Linked DNA regions of Homo sapiens. The protein of the gene in region 1 interacts with the protein of each later gene in a pairwise test. Each region holds a gene or a part of one and is shown in the gene's direction. Other genes may lie near its edges.

What was found.
Region 2: the proteins of BATF2 (region 1) and HLF come close enough for resonance energy transfer, tested with the Homo sapiens proteins (one large-scale study listed by IntAct).
Region 3: the proteins of BATF2 (region 1) and CEBPG come close enough for resonance energy transfer, tested with the Homo sapiens proteins (one large-scale study listed by BioGRID and IntAct).

Annotation. Positions count from the first base shown.
Region 1 is NC_000011.10:64,990,580-64,993,993, reverse strand, and holds part of BATF2 (basic leucine zipper transcriptional factor ATF-like 2), read left to right. Parts: intron 1-3,414.
Region 2 is NC_000017.11:55,263,313-55,267,063, forward strand, and holds the start of HLF (hepatic leukemia factor), read left to right. Parts: upstream 1-1,647; 5' UTR 1,648-2,172; coding exon 2,173-2,287; intron 2,288-2,531; exon of another isoform or gene 2,532-2,574; intron 2,575-2,909; exon of another isoform or gene 2,910-3,003; intron 3,004-3,463; exon of another isoform or gene 3,464-3,543; intron 3,544-3,751.
Region 3 is NC_000019.10:33,376,558-33,379,947, forward strand, and holds part of CEBPG (CCAAT/enhancer-binding protein gamma), read left to right. Parts: intron 1-2,586; 5' UTR 2,587-2,682; coding exon 2,683-3,135; 3' UTR 3,136-3,390. UniProt on the Homo sapiens protein: Transcription factor that binds to the promoter and the enhancer regions of target genes. Binds to the enhancer element PRE-I (positive regulatory element-I) of the IL-4 gene. Binds to the promoter and the enhancer of the immunoglobulin heavy chain.

The DNA of each region.
Region 1 (3,414 bases):
AGACTCTGTCTCTACAAAAATTAAAAAATAGTTAGCTGGGCGTGATGGTGCACACCTGTAGTCCCAGCTACTCAGGAAACTGAGGCAGGAGGATCGCTTGAGCCCAGAAGTTCAAGGCTGCAGTGAGCCATGATTGTACCACTGCATCCAACCTGGGCAACAGATTGAGACCCTGTCTATAGAAAAAAAAAAGTGGATTATTCTTCCTCTGCCAGGTCCCACCTCATGAGGCCAGGTGGGCCCAGGGACCTGCACGGTGATTTGTGATTAATCACCTGGGGGTCAGAATTCAGGAGGTGACCAAGACCATACTGTGAGAACTCTGGTTCAGGGTTAAAATGGGCAGGGTTTCCAGTCCCAGTTGCAAGTTGCTTCCTTTACTGAGCTTCATGCTCATCTGAAAATACCATAAACAGTGGCTTAAACAATAGACATTTATTTCTCACAGTTTTGGAGGCTGGGAAGTCCAAGATCAAGGTGCCAGCCAATTCAGTTCCAGATGAGGGTGCTCTTCCTGACTTGTAAGTGGCTGCCTTCTCGCTGTGTGCTCATGGCCTCTCAGTGCATGTGAGAGGACAGAGTGATCTCTTTCCCTTCCTCTCCTTTTTGGGATTTTTGTTGTTGTTGTCATTTTTGAGACAGAGTCTCACTCTGTTGCCCAGACTGGAGTGCAGTGGCGCCACTTGGCTCACTACAACCTCTACCTCCTGGGTTCAAGTGATCCTCCTGCCTCAGCCTCCTGAGTAGCTAGGATTACAGGCATGCGCCACTACGCCCACCTAATTTTTGTATTTTTAGCAGAGACGGGGTTTCACCATGTTGGCCAGGCTGGTCTCAAACTCCTGGCTTTAAGTGATCTGCCCGCCTCAGCCTCCCAAAGTGCTGGGATTACAGGCGTGAACCACTGCACCTGGCCCCCTCCTTTTGTTTTAATTTTTTATTCATTTATTATTTATTTATTCTTTCTTTTTTATTTCTTCATATTCTTTATTTTTTAATAGTGATGGGGGTCTTGCTATGTTGCCCAGGCTTGTCTTGAACTCCTGGGCTCAAGCAATCCTCCCACCTCCACGTCCCAAAGTGCTGGGATTACAGGCGTGAGCCACCATGCCTGGCCTCTTCCTTTTTTTTTTTTGAGAGGGTCTTACTCTGTTGTCCAGGCTAGAGTGCAGTCCACGATCCTGGCTCACTGCAACCTCAGCTTCCCAGGCTCAAGCGATCCTCTCCACCTCAGTCTCCCGAGTAGCTGAGACTACAGGCATGCACCATCACACTTGGCTAACTTTTGTATTTTTTGTAGAGACAGAGTTTCTCCATGTAGCCCAGGCTGGTCTTGAACTCCTGGACTCAATTGATCCACCTACCTCGGCCTCCCAAAGTGCTGGGATTACAGGCTTGAGCCACCGCTCCCAGCCTCCTTCCCTCTTCTTATAAGGCCACCAATCCTATCAGATTAGAACCCGATCCTCTATCCTAGGACCTCATTTAATCTAAATTACCTTCTAAGAGCCTTATCTCTAAATGCAATCACATCGGGGGTTATGGCTTCAACACATAAATTTTGGAGGGAACACAATAGAGTCCATAGCACATAGGTAGTGGCATTGAGTGGTCTAAAGAGGAGATGAGCCAGGCGCGGTGGCTCACGCCTATAATCCCAGCACTTTGGGAGGCTGAGGTGGGTGGATTACTTGTTGGCCAGGAGTTCGAGACCAGCCTGGCCAACGTGGTAAAACCCCATCTCTACTAAAAATACAAAAATTAGCCAAGCATTGTAGCTAATTAGGCAGCCCCAGTAGCTGGGATTACAGGGATGTGGTAGCTAATTAGCCAATCCCAGTAGCTGAGGCAGGAGAATTGCTTGAACCTGGGAGGTGGAGGTTGCAGTGAGCTGAGGTCGTGCCACTGCACTTCAGCCTGGGAGACAGAGAGAGACTCTGTCTCAAAAACAACAACAACAACAACAAAAAAAGGCGATGAAGCCTGAGCTTAAGGACAAATGGGCGTTTTCCCAGAGGATGAAGGTAAGAAAACGCATTGCGGACAAATGACACAGTGCTGGCACAGGCGTGGGGAGCAGCACCCTGTAGACCAGGTGAGAGTGAGGACTGGTACTCAGAATGGTGCCTAGGAGACCCACGCATCCGTTTATTCCTTCCTTCTGGAAATGCTTATTGAGCGTCTCCCGTGTGCCAGGCACATTTCTAAGCACTGGATATAGAGCTGTAGACACAGTAGACAAACGCCCACCCCAGCCCCACCCACAGGGCTCATATTCTCCTGGGGAAGCCAGACCCACAAACAAAAAGTCCCTAGAGTGGTCAGGATGTCAGATGGTGTTAAATCCTGTTGGGAAAACTAAAGCAGAGAAGAGGGAAGGGATGAAATTGAAATTGTTACTCCTTGAGCCTCCTGAAGGTGGCAAACGAATGAATAAATGAATGAGTGAGTGACTCCGTTCCTGGAGGTGAGTTGAAGCCTTTGGAGAATTTAGGTGAAGGGTGGCCTAATGATACATTTTAGAAATGTCCATCATTCCGGCCAGGCACATTGGCTCACGCCTGCAATCCCAGCACTTTGGGAGGCCAAGGCTGGCGGATCACGAGGTCAGGAGTTCGAGACCAGCCTGACCAACATGGTGAAACCCCATCTCTAGTAAAAATACAAAAATTAGCTGGGCATGGTTGTGCATACCTGTAGTCCCAGCTACTCGGGAGGCTGAGGCAGGAGAATCGTTTGAACCTGGGAGGCAGAGGTTGCAGTGAGCCGAGATTATGCCATTGCACTCCAGCCTGGGCGACAGAGCAAAACTCTGTCTCAAAAAAAAAAAAAAAAAAAAATTCATCATTCCACATGTAGAAACCAGCGTGGCAATGGGGCTGGTGGCTTTCAGGCTGAGTCCAGGGCCGGGCGCGGTGGCTCACGCCTGTAATCCCAGAACTTTGGGAGGCCGAGGCAGGCAGATCACGAGGTCAGGAGATCGAGACCATCCTGGCTAACATGGTGAAACCCCGTCTCTACTAAAAATACAAAATATTAGCCAGGCGTGGTGGCGGGCGCCTGTGGTCCCAGCTACTCAGGAGGCTGAGGCAGGAGAATGGTGTGAACCTGGGAGCTTGAGCTTGCAGTGAGCCGAGATCGAGCCACTGCACTCCAGCCTGGGCGACAGAGCCAGACTCCATCTCAAAAAAAAGAACTTTGAGTCCAGGGCCAAAACCACATTTTTATGCAAAACACCTTTGCAACTTCTTCTTTCAAAGTGTCCAGAAAAGGGGGTGGGGGACTGAAGGAAGTCGTTCAATTTATTCAGCCCTGTGAGATGTGGATATAAAATTCTTTCTGCATTTTTACCATTACTGTCATCATAAATGGTTATTTAGAACTGCACATTGATTGTGTCTCAGGGGTTCTCAG
Region 2 (3,751 bases), on another chromosome or scaffold:
CTCTAGAATCCCTTTCCTAATAATGTAAGTGCCCCTGTCACCTCCATCTATCCATTTTTGTTCTTTTAAGCCTATTTTATATTATTTGCTTATATGCCAAACCCTAAACGATGAGTTCTTGAAGGTTAAAATTATGTTTTATTCATCTTTTTTCACTAGCCCCCGCATAGTCGCTGGCATACATACCGTGGTGCTCAATAAATGCATGTGGCATTAACTAAAAGTTTGCTGTTTCTGGAATTCGTCTGAAACCTGAAACACTGCAACAACATCTCACTTAGAATGTTGCCTTACCCTTTTGCCATAATTTTAGAGTGAGGAAGTAGAGGTCACTAGATTACGTGTCCTTTTATGAAGAACCTACAGCTCAGGGCAGAAAGGCACTTGCCGGAATCACCCTGCCAGGGAACTCTGAACCCCGCTGCGCCGCCGCTCCTGATCTCTGGGGTTTCAGGCGCCTCCTCTCTTACAACCCTCTCCTGGGGAAGTAAACCCCATCAAGACACCACCACATCCTTCCCCAGCGACTCAGCCTGGGGTCACAAAGGCCTTTACGTCCCACTGAAAAACGGTTTTCTTTCATTTGTGCCCATTCGTTCTTGCAGCCCCTTCCCCAGATCGAAGACTAGGGTCTTAGTAAGGAGAGGTAAGGAGGGAGGGGAAGAACCTGCCTGGCCCCCCGCGGAGCTCTGCAGGGGGCGTCGCGGCTGCACGCCAGCGCCCGCACCACCCCAGGCGGGAAGGGAGTTATCACACAGGGGGTCGCACGCAGATCTCGGGGACCGTGGGTGCCACGAGGTCAAACTGGCAGAGGGAGACGCTGCAGCTGCTGTAACAGCAAGGAAAGCCGAAGCCCCCTTAGGGGATACTTTACAAAATTATTTTAATCACCGTGCAAACCTAATAACTTGACCCAAGCGCAATCACCTGTATTCACCCAGAGTAAATATTCCTAAAATCCCGTTCAGTGTGTCTGTGTCTCTCCCGCCTCTTTCCGTTTCAGGCAAATGTCTACCCCCCCTCTCCCCCCACCGTTAACACCTCTCTGCAGCGTGGGAAACAGTGCCCAGCAGCTCAGTCCTCCGCTTCCCGCTCTGCTTTTTGCATCCCATTCGGACTTATAGGAAGTAGTTATTTTTTGGTGGTGGTGGAAACTGGGCAAGAAAGAAGACGCTAAGCTTGGCCGGGGCCAGGAGAAATATTGAGAAGGGTCGTTACCTTCCATCCGATCTAAACCAATCATCTCAAACTTGGCTACTCTTTGGAACCACCTGGGGAGCTTTAAAAATTATGGACGCCCTGATAGCACCGCAGAGGTTCTGATCTAATTGATCTGGGATGCGGCCTGGGTATCGCGATTTTTTTAAAACTCCTCAGGTTATTCCCAGCTTGAAAACTATGGATATAAATTTCTCATTCCTCTTCCCACCCAGACCAAAAAAAAAAAAAAAAATCTAAGCCTAAGTTGATGGCCCAGGGAATCTGGCACCTGCTCCCCTGCAACCAGCCAGTGCTGCAAGGTCCCCGAAAATCGGCGCGAGCGGCGACGCTAAACACGCGGCGGCGGGGCGAGCGGGCCAGGCGGGCGGTGCCGCGCGTGGCCCCGCCCCCGCACGCCTATGGGCGCGAGGTGCGGGCCCTGACGTCACTCTTGTCAGGGCCGCGGCACATGGGCGGCCGGATGCGCTGAGCCCGGCGCTGCGGGGCCGCGGAGCGCTGGGGAGCAGCGGCCGCCGGCGCGGGGAGGGGGGTGGGGTGGGACGGCGCACCGCCTCCGGTGCTGGCACTAGGGGCTGGGGTCGGCGCGGTGTCTTCTGCCCTTCTGCAGCCGTCGACATTTTTTTTTCTTTCTTTTTTTCAATTTTGAACATTTTGCAAAACGAGGGGTTCGAGGCAGGTGAGAGCATCCTGCACGTCGCCGGGGAGCCCGCGGGCACTTGGCGCGCTCTCCTGGGACCGTCTGCACTGGAAACCCGAAAGTTTTTTTTTAATATATATTTTTATGCAGATGTATTTATAAAGATATAAGTAATTTTTTTCTTCCCTTTTCTCCACCGCCTTGAGAGCGAGTACTTTTGGCAAAGGACGGAGGAAAAGCTCAGCAACATTTTAGGGGGCGGTTGTTTCTTTCTTATTTCTTTTTTTAAGGGGAAAAAATTTGAGTGCATCGCGATGGAGAAAATGTCCCGACCGCTCCCCCTGAATCCCACCTTTATCCCGCCTCCCTACGGCGTGCTCAGGTCCCTGCTGGAGAACCCGCTGAAGCTCCCCCTTCACCACGAAGACGGTGAGCGCTGCCGCGGCCCCGCTCCGGGAAGGGACGACGCTCCGGGGGTCCCCCTCCGCGGCCGGGCACGCCCGCTGGAGCATCCCCCAACCCCGCTCCCGCCCTGTCCCGCGGCGCCCCGGCCCCGCGCTGATGAAATTGAGGAGCTCACCCAGCACCCTTCCTCCCCTTCCTCCTCCTCCATGAAAGGGGAGGGACCCCTCCTGAGCTACATTTAAAAGAGCTTCGGGCACCCGGCCTCCCTGGGTCCCGCTCCTGCGGCGCGGGTGGGAGGTGTAACTTGACAGGTCAGGATCGTTCCCTAGAACGAGGCACACCCGCACGCAGAGCGAGCCCGCCTGCGGAGGGCAGAGCCTCCCGGGCTGGGGAGGAGAAACCCTGGGGCCTGGTTCTGTGCGGGGCAGGGGGCGGGGGTCGGCTTGAGGGAGGGGGTTTCACTGCGTAGCCTGGGTTTTGGGGTTGTGTTACAGCTTCTGTTACTGGTTAGTATTTGGAACTCACGAGGTGTGAGAGAAGACTCGTTTTCTTCTGGTGAAGGGTAGCTGAGAAAGCGGGGTGGGGGCTGGGGCCGGTGGGGGGAGTGGTCTCTCGGCGGGAAGCCGTGCACGCCTCCAGCGTTGACACTTTCCCGGTGCACTTTTTCTGGTGGGAGGGGAGAGCGGAGCAGGCTCACGTGTAACCGCGCAGGAGCCTCCTCTGGCTTGAGCCCTTTCTTGGTAAGTCCCAAACCTTCCCAAGACAACCTTGGCCTTAGCAGTAGAGGAGGGGTACGTGTGATGAGGCCCCAAACCCGGCTAAGTGATGCCACGGATTTGGGTTGATGCGATTTCATGCCTTCGGTATCACAGTAGCAAATGCGAACCGTGCGGCTCACAGTGTAAAGTTCTGAAAGGTTATTTGGCTACAAATAGCTTGGGAGTACTTGCACCTTCTTTTCTAGGAGAGGACAACCTGTTGCATTGCAAGAGTTTGCAATCTGCAGATGATAGCCAGGGACCCCTCCCTAACTATCCTTTAAGGAAGAGCATTTGGGAGGAAGGGGCTGCCTGCAGGCTTTTGCATCTGTGGGTGTTTTAAGTCAGATTTTCAGATGAGATGGTAGAGGGTTAGAATGGATGGCAGTGGAGGCTGTGTTTCTCTGAAGATGAAACTCAGAAGCAAATTCCTTAATCCCAGATTCCACCCACGACTGAATACTAGAATTGGCAAGATCCGGAATGCTTGTTAAAGACCTAATGGGCGAGCAGTACTTCCAGGTAGCAAATAGCTGCATACTTCCAACATAAATGTATAGAATAACTCACCTTTTCCAATAGCTCTGCTTTTGAAAGGTTTTGTAAATGCATACTCTTTGTAAATTGGATCATACTCAAATGTTTGGAGAAGAGAAGGAAGAAAACACTTTGTATTTTTTTAAACTCCTTTTGTAAAAATCAGTGTGCCCCAGTGGCTTTAGAAGCAAAC
Region 3 (3,390 bases), on another chromosome or scaffold:
CATTTCTAAAGAGTTCCTGGATGATGATGATGCTGGTCCAGGGACCACACTTTGAGAACCACTGCTCTTCAGCTTTCCTGCTGTTTCCTCCTTGAGTGATTCACATGGAAGGAAGCCAGGCGCCGCCCTGCATCCTGTAGCCTGAACTTTGGAATAGTGTTTGTCCACAGAGGAGCCAGACTTGAATTTAGGACTGAGTGTCCAGCTTTCAAATAAACACTTTTTGCCTGTTGTAGGTGTTCAGTAAATGTGTGTGGAGGAACAAAGCGTAAATGAGAGTGGCCTTTTCAGTGTAAAATCACTTAGCTCTTTGATCCCCTTTTACTTGGTTAATCTTCACTTTAAGAGCTATTTATATGGTTAAAGAACTTACTAAACAAAACATTCTTGGAGTTATTTTGATTATCTCCAAGTTTCTCTTTCTTACATTTTCACCAGTTTGTAGGTTCAGTGAATACTCTTTTCAGGCCAAAGGGCTTACCTTTAAAACCTCACCTACCACACACGTTCAGCCTAGTACCTTGCAAGATGAGTCAGGCAGAGGTGAAAAAGCCCTTCCCTGTTCCTGTATCTTTGGATACGGAAACAGGCGTGAACGTTGCTGAACGTGGACCCTGTAGTGAGTAAGAGCTGTTTGTTAGTGACTGAAGGTCGTGGTGTGTTGTCTGTAGGAAAGTGTCTTACTATTCCACATCCCTCATTTGCATGTGGGGAACAGACAGCCATGGAAGAAAAGAGATTTGCCCAAACTAAAATAGGGGGAGCCACAGCCAAGACAAGAACTGGCCTGGTCACTGGTCTCTACCGCTTTGGATCATTGCTATCTCTGAGCATGGACAAGTTGACTGTAGAGAGCTTTAAAGGCTAAAAATATAATTGGTATATTAAAAAAAAAGTAGAGAAATAAGGTGAACATGATTATGATTGTTAAGACAGTCTCAGGGGAGGTGTTAAACAAGTTCTTAAAAATTGAGTAAAGCACCTCTCACTTGACACCAAATGGATAATAATAATGTTAGGTGGCACTAAATGTGGCTCAGATTAATACTAAACAGCCACTTTTCTACTGGAAGAAAAATGAGGCAACCTAATGATGACCAAGGGAAATTGTGAACTGTCCATTACTGAAGATAGGCTTGGAGTGGATCGCCCTCATGGTTTGGAGGGATGCTTTTTGTCTTGCCTTAGTGTTGGCGTGAGAACAGATGACCTACTAGCTCAGAGTCGGCTGTGTGGCTTTGAAAACAATGGAAAGTAATGACACATGGACTTTTCAAAGCAAAGATGTTTTTTAAAAAGAGACCAATAAACAGTGTACAGAATTGCCTGGCTGAAGGTTTGGGTGTAGCTACTGGTGTTTGCTAACTGAGCTTTCCCTCATTGTGGGATCACTGCATAAATCTGACTCCAGATTTTTTCCACTGATGTGATTTTAGCAGTTTTGTGAAAAGAGAACAGGATAGTTTTATGTTCCTAACACTGCTTTCTAAATTTCTAAGAGTGCCCTGATTCCTTGGTGGACACCGTTCACTGAACTTAGTTTGTCTTGAAGTGGCCTCATGTTGATAGGATAGTCACACTTTTACACTTCTTGGGGCAGCTGTAGGGACTTAATTGGATTCAGAGTAATCCACATGTGACTGCTTTTCGAAACCGTGCCTTCATTTCTGCAGGCAGCAGCACAGGGATGCTTCAGAGCTGGTGCGTCCTCCGAGCTCACACGAGCTCATTTGGTAGCACGAAGTGGCCACAGGCACGGCAGCTGCTCAGCTCCTTTGTCCAGCCTGGGTCCCAGGACCCGCACTTCCTTGGATGCATCATGAGGGCTTCTGTTTCTTTCCTTGTGGTTTCAGGTTGAGTGTGTTTTGAGTTTTACTAATTATGTCAAGAAGAAAAAACACACTTTTTACAAGCTTGGTGGGATGGGGAGCAAATTGAGTGTCAGAGCTCCTAAATTCAAGAAACTGACTCAGTAAATTTGGTTAAACTGTGGAATTATCATTTGAGGTCATTAAAAAAATAAAGCAAAAAACTACCTTTTCAAAATATCCGATGAAGAGAGCTCTGGGAGAGAACTCAAGTCCTCGATGACTCCCTCTCTGCATATTAGAACATGGAACCCGCAGGGGTGATAGCATGAGAGCGCTGGAGACAGGGTGCGCAACCCCAGCCTTCTGTTTTGACTTGAACCAACAATGGAAACTTTTCCCCCCTTTCATTGCAGGTGTCTCTCCTACTACAGTCAGCTGCAGCTCCTCCCTGGGAGATTGTCAAGTGCTGTTAGTTCACATGCGCCACCTAATTAGTGGAAGTCTTTTGTTTTCCTCCCATTTTTGATAACAATCGCAGAGGGGCAGTGCCCTCAGGGATCCAGGTGGGCTGAGTTTCGCCTGATGGTGCTTCTGTGCTTACTTACCTTTCTAAGTGAAATGATTTAGACTTCAGAAACATTGGAACAGTTGGCAGTTGCTGTAGACTTTTCTCAGCAGAATCAATTAATGTTGGCCTGATGTTAGGTACGTACAAGTTTGATCTCATTTGATCCTGTCATTTCAAATATTTTAATGCAATTTATTTTTTAACTAGGTACATGTGAAGATTTTTTGGCAGCTTAGCGTGGAAACCATTGATCACCCTGCTCTCATTTCTACCTGTTCTGTGTTGGCAAGGGAGAGTGCCCAAATGAGCAAGATATCGCAGCAAAACAGCACTCCAGGGGTGAACGGAATTAGTGTTATCCATACCCAGGCACATGCCAGCGGCTTACAGCAGGTTCCTCAGCTGGTGCCTGCTGGCCCTGGGGGAGGAGGCAAAGCTGTGGCTCCCAGCAAGCAGAGCAAAAAGAGTTCGCCCATGGATCGAAACAGTGACGAGTATCGGCAACGCCGAGAGAGGAACAACATGGCTGTGAAAAAGAGCCGGTTGAAAAGCAAGCAGAAAGCACAAGACACACTGCAGAGAGTCAATCAGCTCAAAGAAGAGAATGAACGGTTGGAAGCAAAAATCAAATTGCTGACCAAGGAATTAAGTGTACTCAAAGATTTGTTTCTTGAGCATGCACACAACCTTGCAGACAACGTACAGTCCATTAGCACTGAAAATACGACAGCAGATGGCGACAATGCAGGACAGTAGACCTCACCCTTTCCAGACTTTAGAGCTTGTGGCTTGAATGTTAAAGGTGTGACCACCGACACCACTCATGTCAATGGCTGAAAGTTGTCCATTTCCATGACTCAAAGACCCATTGGAGGCTATTTTCTGGGATCAGCACTGAAGAGTTGATTAGCTAAAAATGTTAGCCTTGTAATTCGAATATCTGGTTTTAAATGATAGAGGTTTTTGTGGGAATCAAAATCCCCCAAATGTTAAGGTATATGGTAAAAAAAG